3 separate regions of the Homo sapiens genome follow, and all the other regions are linked to region 2. The links come from fine-mapping of genetic effects on gene expression. A gene starts in region 2. Each other region holds a variant in brackets. All regions are shown on one strand. Distances are from middle to middle.

What was found. PIP is the estimated chance that this variant, and not a neighbour inherited with it, causes the effect.
Region 1: its variant is the best candidate, but not a certain one, in a credible set for the expression of TBCA in whole blood (INTERVAL, PIP 0.54).
Region 3: its variant is the best candidate, but not a certain one, in a credible set for the expression of TBCA in blood mononuclear cells (TOPMed, PIP 0.66).

The regions. Positions count from the first base shown.
Region 1 is chr5:77,869,318-77,872,081 of GRCh38, forward strand. No RefSeq gene overlaps it. Among named protein-coding and RNA genes, the nearest start is that of TBCA, 94 kb to the left of the region's middle. RefSeq lists an enhancer at 2,566-2,764. The variant A/G (reference allele first, on the strand shown) is at 1,302.
Region 2 is chr5:77,774,992-77,777,755 of GRCh38, forward strand. TBCA (tubulin folding cofactor A) reads right to left here and starts at 1,348. Exons shown (of 4, transcript NM_004607.3): 1 at 1,214-1,348. The coding sequence starts at 1,266. RefSeq lists silencers at 945-1,114, 1,235-1,494.
Region 3 is chr5:77,796,925-77,799,688 of GRCh38, forward strand. No RefSeq gene overlaps it. Among named protein-coding and RNA genes, the nearest start is that of TBCA, 22 kb to the left of the region's middle. The variant G/A (reference allele first, on the strand shown) is at 1,655.

The DNA.
Region 1 (2,764 bases), 94 kb after region 2:
AGAAGCGGCGTGATAAATGGCAGCACCTTGGCTCCATTGCATGCCCTATTGATTCTCCTTCTTTATTACTCCTACAACCCAGCTGGTTGCTTTGCCCTCCCCACAAGCCGTTTCTTGGGGGAGGGATTGCTTCCTAGAAACCCAATTTATGGAGAAGGGGAGTGTGGCATTTTCTTACCATAGCAAAACCCTGTGTTTAGCTTTCGTTAACATTTACAAATATAGCCCTTTTTTGGTGACAGACACCTTGACTGGGGGAAGAGCAGGCGGTCGGGGAGGGTTTCAGCCATATGCAGTTTCCTTTCTCTATTGCAAGGCAAAATATTTTAGCTGCCGTGTTTTTATCCAATTGAAACCTGCATCTCTAAGTTCCAGTCAATGCAAAACAGGATAAGCAAAGTAACTGTCTGCCACGTTTATCTGTGTATCTATAGAGATATTTTCAGGTTATTGTCAGGGTAAACCAAATGCCAGTTCAGATCTGTGATCAACCATTTTGCGTGATCCCAGCCTTAGTTATCCACAGACAACACACGTTCAGGCTCTGATGCATGTTAGATTGGGTGAACAAATAGTACATAAGAGACTGGTCTGGATTAGCAGGGAGCTTTGTTTAAAAAGACACTGTATGTCAGCCTAGCAGTTAATCCATTAAGTAAGAAATGGCAACGCTTCTCCAATGGCACCAAGAGAGACCTCTTTTAAATACATCAATATTTCAAACTGTTTTGCTCATCTGTTATAACTTTTCTGTTTCCCTTTCATGGGTTGCCATATATCTCGAACCTTTTTGAGGGGCCAAATGAGACTCTGAAAAGCAGAGGCATTAAAAAGAACTTTTAAAATGAAAGTAGCCCCTGAGGTGTAGAGGCCTCTCTCAGGCTGAGTCCCTTCATTCTGCAGCCTTCCTAGCAGGGTCAGGGGCTTCTCAGTGGAGGTGCTCACAAGAGGGAGGCCAAGATCCCAAAGCCAGAGGCCTAGATTCCAGATCGTACTCCGCCTCTTTGTAGCTAGGTCAAGTTCCACTAAGAAGCCATGATGAACTTTGCTTTTCAAATCTGTAAAATGGATGTGCTAATGCTTACTTCTCAAGTATGCTGTAAGGATCCAGTCTTTTAATGATGTGAAATGTGATACAAACCCCATAGCATTATAGAAGACATTATTAACAGAATGCAGTTGAAATCCTAACATCCAGGATCATAAACTTGCTCACCTATGTGGTTCAATGTCATATTTATGTACCTCCCACCTAATTCTTTTTTTTTTTTTTTTTTTTTGAGGCGGAATCTCGCTCTGTC[A/G]CCCAGGCTGGAGTGCAGCGGCACGATCTCGGCTCACTGCAAGCTCTGCCTCCCGGGTTCACGCCATTCTCCTGCCTCAGCCTCCCAAGTAGCTGGGACTACAGGCGCCCGCCACCACGCCCGGCTAATTTTTTGTATTTTTAGTAGAGACCGGGTTTCACCGTGTTAGCCAGGATGGTCTCGATCTCCTGACCTCATGATCTGCCCGCCTCGGCCTCCCAAAGTGCTGGGACTACAGGCGTGAGCCACCGCGCCCGGCCTCCCACCTTTAAATTAACTACAGTGGTTCTCAAACCCTAGGGTGTGCAGTGACAACATGAGGAGCTTGTTAAAAATGCAGATTCTTTTTAATGACTAAGGGGTTTTACTCTAAAGCAGAGGTGTCCAGTTTTTTTAGTTCCCTGGGCCACACTGGAAGAAGAAGAATTGTCTTGGGCCACACATAAAATAGACTAACACTAATGATAGCTGATGAGCTAAAAAACAAGCAAACAAAAGTCATAAAAATTTACAATGTTGTAAGAAAGTTTAAAAATTTGTGTTGGGCCGCATTCAAAGCTGTCCTGGGTCATGTGCAGGCCACACACAGGCCGCTGGTTGGACAAGTTTGCCTCTCAAGTGATACAAATGTTTTGAAAGTAGATAGAAGTGGTGGTTGCCCAGCGTGGTAAATGTACTAAAGCGTTTAAAAATGCTTAGTTTTATATTATGTGAACCTCAACAAATGATTTTTAAAATGCAGAGTCCTTGACTTGTCCCTCTTGGATTCCGGTTCAGTTTGATGTGGTGCCGCAAAATTTTCATCTTAAAAAATCCCGCCTCACCTCAGAATTTCCCGAGGCATTTTAACATAAGGCAGAGGCAATGCTGATGTAGGTGGTCCAGTGACTATGTTACTTAGAAATATTAAGAAAATACCACCTGGGAAATAAGGAACTTAATACTTTTTTTCAGATGGGGAAAAACTAAGAAAGAGTTAGGCATCAATTAACTCTGTTAAGTTGTGTGAAGAGAACAGCCAGAATTGAGTTGGGAGAAACAGACTTTTGGTACACAAATGTTGCTAGCTTTCAAAGTGTTTTACAATCTTTCCTAAAAAGTTTCTTGCAAAAGTGAACACAGAGCAAGTCCATGGCCCACCTAAGGTCATGCCAAGTGCAGACACTACTTTGGAAAATAGCTTTTCTCAACAGGCAGATGCAGGCCTGACTCATTTCTGAAAATAAAATTAACGTTAACACGAGAAAAGGTGCTCTTACCTCTGTCTACTTGCACGATTGTATAGGGTTGAAAGCCCTCGGCCAAGGTTACAGAAACACCACGCGTTTAGAAAATAGCCATTTGGTAGCCACTTTGCACGGGCTGGAAGTAGCATGATCTAGTGGTCTTTGCCTTGGATCAATTTGTGCTCTGGAGCTTCGATACCCACTAACTCAGAGCATGCTTTTAACAGTTATCTAACT
Region 2 (2,764 bases):
AAAAAAAGCTACATACCTCCCTGACAATTTGCCCCCAAGGAAATTCCTTGTGGGCCTCAAGACCTTCACTCTAAAACAGTTCTGTTGTATTTCACCCTGGCAATGTAAATTGATAGCTTATCTTCACAGGTATGGGACAAAGAACAGAACTCAAAGTCACCCCTCTACCCACCTGAGACAAATGCGTAACTGACTGCTTCCTCTGCCCTACTGTGTATGTAAAATCGCAGATTCATTTAGCCGACTAAGGCATAAGTGACTATTCTTCTATCCCTCTCTCACATGTAAATTGTGTATTAAGTGAAAAGCTGATCAAAGACTCAAAAGAATGCAACCATTTGTCTCTTATCTATGACCTGGATGCCCCCCAACCTTCTAGTTGTCCTGCCTTTCTGGAGGGAACCAAGGTACACCTTACCCATTGACTAATATCTGAGGTCTCCCTAAAACGTATTACACCAAGCTGTGCCCCAACCGCCTTGGGCACATGTCATCAGGACCTCCTGAGGCTGTGTCATGGGCACGTCCTTGGCAAAATAAACATTCCAAATTAAGACCTGTCTCAGATACTTCTGGTTCACAAGTTATTTAAACAGCATCTCACAGCCTCTGGGGCGAGCTTCGGGGAATCTGACTGGAGAAAGTGAGGCCACATAAGTTTGCTGAGTGTGCTAGAAGTTCAGGCCCAGTTCTCAAAGCCTGCCAGTCACGCCAGCCATGTTAGGTCACACGGCTCCACTACGGTCTTTTTTGACGAGGCCCAGATCCTCCGCATCCCCCTAAACTTCAGAGCCTGCTTTCAAGCCCATTTGAGAGCACAGCTGGGATCCCGCTTCCCCGGGCCAAGTTCAGCAAGGAGAGGCCGGCGCGCGCACACAGGAGGCACGGGATCAGGGCCCGGCCCGCCCTCGCAGGCCGCGGCCCACCACCTTCCCACCGCGGGCGCCGAGAAACCGGGCCACCGCCGACTCTTCCGGCAAATCAGAGCGGCCAGTGAGCGGAGAGGGACGGGAAGCGGCGTGCGAGGCTGGCGGGCTCGGGCGTCAGCGCGCCCCGCTGGGTCCCTGCCAGTCCCAGCCAACTGCGGAGCCCCGGGTGCGGCCTGGAGTTCGGAGCCCGCCTCGGGCCTCCTCGGGCCTGCGCTCCGCTCAGCCTCGCGGGCCGCCATGAGGTGACGAAGAGGAGGTGCAGGGCGCCGCTCCCGGCTCCTTACCGCTTCACCACGCCGGTCTTGATCTTGATCTGTCTCACGCGAGGATCGGCCATGGTCCCTCGAGCGCCGCGAGAAGGAGGGGCGGAGAGCCGGGGTAACCGTGGAGGGCGACGCGCAGAGGCTGCGGCTATTTAGGCGTGGTCGCCGGCGCGCATGCGCAGGCTGCGCGGCCCGTCGTCCCCGCCACGCCCCGCGGGGCGGGTTTACTAGAGGGCGGTACCCTGCTCCCGCCAGTCCCTTTACCCCTCGTGCGCCCCTTTACCCGTAGTGAAACGTGCCCTCCTCCTCTCTCTCGGACTGCCCCTCTTTTTACTTCAGGCGCAAGTTACACTATCCCGGTCTCCACAGCCTGGGCCTTTGGGGAAACTAACGTCTCTCTGGGACGTTGCTTTGCGGGATTATCTGCTTAATGGACGGAGTGACCTAAAAAATGTATTAAGGGTATTTTCGATGTCGTTATCTGGTGTCAGATGAGGCAGAGTGATGCATGTGTAGTGAAACAAACTGCCATCATGCACGCAGTCAAGAAAATCCTTGCCCTTTACCTCAAATCCCTGCAAGAAGGTTTGTAGATAACGTGCCTTTCAAAGGAAATGACTAACAGAACTTCTTCAGATGATCACTTATAGTGTATCCTAAATATTTAACTTACAAGAATGTGTGTCGCACACAAAACCTTGGGCTTCCTAATCAGACAAACCGGCTTACAATCGAGGTTCCACCCTTTAATAGCTAGACTATTAGCTAGACAACACTGATACGTATGCTGTTTAGCCTTGCAGCTGATCAGTCTGCAAAATGGAAATAATAATGTCCATTTTACAGATTAGGTATAAGGGTTAAAACACCTAGCTCATTGTCTGACGCATGGTAGATGCTGAACAACATTTGACTATTTTATATGTTCAAAAATATATTTGTTGCATAAAATGAGGCACATCTACAGTGAGCTCTAGCAGTCCCTTCCTAAGAGAATCTCCTGAGGAATACAGGGCAGAATCGCCCTTTTTAAAATTGCTTTTCTTTTTCTTTTTCTTTTTTTTTTTTTTGAGACAGATTCTCACTCTGTCGTGCAGTGGCTTGATCTCGGCTCACTGCAACCTCCGCCTCCTGGGTTCAAGTGATTCTCCTGCCTCAGCCCCTAGAGTAGCTGGAATTATAGGCGCGTTCCACTATGCCTGGCTAATTTTTTTTTTTTTTTTTTTTTGTATTTTTAGTAGAAACGGGGTTTCACCACGTTGGCCAGGCTGGCTAGAACTCCTGACCTCAGGTGAGGCCCACCTCACCCTCCAAAAGTGCTGGGATTACAGTCATGAGCCACCGAGCCCACCCCCTTTTTAAAATTTCTTGGTACCATCCTTCAAAGACACCCATATGACTGTCTTTTTCCTTCCCTAGCCTGACTTACTCATTCTCACTTTCATGACTGGTCCTGGAATCCCCTTCTATCCCGCCAGCCCAAGGCCGTTACTTTAAATCCAGGATCAAAACTGAGCAAAGTCTACTATGACTCACCCCACCTGTTCAATCTTCCCTGGATGCTTTGGAGTC
Region 3 (2,764 bases), 22 kb after region 2:
TGTCTCTTTGTATGTGTGTGTGTTTGCTCTAGGGATTGTAATACACTTACCTAACCATTGACAGTCTACTCAGAGTTACTATTTACCACTTTAAATAAAATGCAAATTCGTTAAAACCACATAAGTCTTTTTATCCTCCCACATTAATGTTACAGTTGTCATTTGAAGTATACTGTCGTTTGTAGAAAATGATGTCTAGGCATCTGGTGACTTGGGAGTTAATTTACAGTACAAAAAATCTCAGGTAATTAAGAGGGCTGTGAGAATGAGGCAATACAAAGATTAGAACAGAGGTTTTATTAGTGGTAATGTTAAGACTGTAGCAAGGAACCAGGAATTAAATGTTTTGGATACACAATGTCATTTGCTTCAAATAGCTTCAGTGCACTGCTTGGGAAAGAGGAGTGTGTGGGTGGTGAGTGGATTGCATATCTTGTAATCATAGTACTCAGAAAGGCTTAAGATTATCTTGTTACTTCTCTGTATTATTAATGTTGAAACACCCTCTAGAAGAAGAAGGTGAAAGGAGCAATTTCCCTGAAATAAGTGATGCTTGGCTTAACTCGCAAGCACAAAAACAGACAATTATTTCCATAAACTCTGTCCTGAGCTACATCTACAAAACCTATACCTGTGATGATGGAGGGAGGTTCCAGATTTCAGAGAAAATGAAAGAAATTTGTGCCATAAGCAGATGATCAGGTAATAGGGTAAACTGGGACATCCTTTCTGAACTGGGACATCCTAAATAAACCCAAAGCATGTACAACACTTAGCAATATACAACAATCTAACCTTGAATAATTACACAATTTTTCAATTCAAATTTTGATTTAAACCCCAGGACTAGCTTATTTATTTGACATAGCAGCTAAATTGTTACTTCTCTTGGAGACACCTTTGGCTTCTAGCTGCTCAAAATATATCTCAAGTTGCCCCTCCTTTGTCCTGAAGGCAGCCCCAGAATCCTCCCAGAAGTAAGCAGCTGTCAGGCCATGCTCTTTTCCCCTAGAATATCCTTTCAAGACTCTCCTCAAGCCAAAATAATAACCTTTCGACATCTCAGGTCTAGGAAAGTTCTAAAGTAAGCAATCAATACCATGGAAACAATCCTTTGACATCATTCCAGTAAATCCATCTTTGGGCTATGCAGCTTGTTTTACTGTAATGGTGTTATTTTGGGATTTATTGGCTTCCAGAACTGAGAAAAAGATATAGGAGCACTTTGAGCAAACTGCTCAGTTATGGAGAATGGGAAAAAAACCTCAAATATCTACACTATGTGCTGCTCTGTTGTTATTTCTTTCAGTTTTCTTATATTTTGACAAATTGTTTGATGTGAATTCATATTGTTTCTGTTTTTGTGAATCATAAACAGATCCTTAGACATGAATAAATATCTTTTTGCCAATGTGAATGAAAGAAAGCAGAAAAATTGCAGCTCATATATGCATCTGTATCATTCAAGACGGAAACCACATCAGTTATTTGAACAGAGAGAATATAATCCTTATCTAGGTATAAAGTTGTTAACAAAGTAAATGAAAGGGAAAAAAAAAGATGTCACAAAGGTAGCAACTGCAAGAAGCATTTACTACTCCTAGAATTGGGGAACAAAGGAAAGAAGTTAAAATTATTTGCATTTAGGAACTCA[G/A]AGGAGGAAGCAGAATTCTGAAGTGAGGACATCGGGCAGCTTATGCTGGTTCCTCTGAGAGGGTACAATGAATTTGATCCTGCAATATAGAGGAAAAACCCCAAACAGAATTAAGCTGCTGCCACAGAAAGGAACTGAAGCTGTTGGAATAAAGAACTGATGCTAGTGTGATGCCCACAGGAACAGGAAACATTCAGGAAGCCCACAGGAAGGAGTCTGTTTTTGTTCCTCTAGCATTGCAGCCTCTTGACAAAGTAAAAATGTGTATTTTAGAATTCTAAACCTAGCATCACATTGCAGACTATTGAAGGATAAGTGTGGATGTGAGAGATGAAAACTTAATAACTGACAGAACATCCCAACAACTTATTATCATTGCATTTAAATTAAGCAAGATGAAGATAGCAGATAGGCGATTTGGCTGCCTCATGTAGGGCTGCTAGGGCATTACCTTGAAAGAGCCCCCTTAGTCCAGGATTTGGTCCTCAGCTCTCTAGGCGCAGAAACTCAAGTTTGTCAGAACATCAAGAACTGACAAAGCTCAGATGGATGGACTCACATGATCCAACTTACATGGGACCATTGAACAATCCCAAATGCCAAAGTGTTCATTTATAGTGAGAAATACTACTACATAAATGTTTAAACTGGTGTATGCATTCCTTCATTTGTAGGAAAATGTGATAGTCAGAAGGTGGCTGATGGTCATAAAGTGAGAGTGGGAGAGTTGGTTGTCTGAGCTTCATAGCACAATTGTCTGACATATCTGACTCCATTAGAGAGATGTACTAGGCAAACTGACCAGATGCTCACATCAGCTAGTAAGCCTCCTCACCATGTGTATAGAGCCAGCAGAGTCCCCCCAAGTCTCAATCTTTCTCTCCTCTTTTCTTGGCTCCTGGCTGAGACCAGCCTTCTGTCAGCATATCTTTTCATGTAGTTAATATGTGGTTAGTTACAGTTTTATGTGTCCAAGACATACAGTCTTGGACAAGTTATTGAATCTTTCTGTTTTCTCTTCTTTAGATTGGGGACAATAATCCCTATTTGATGGGGCTTTATATGGATTAAAAGCAGTAGTCCATATACGTACTGATAGGAACAGTGCCT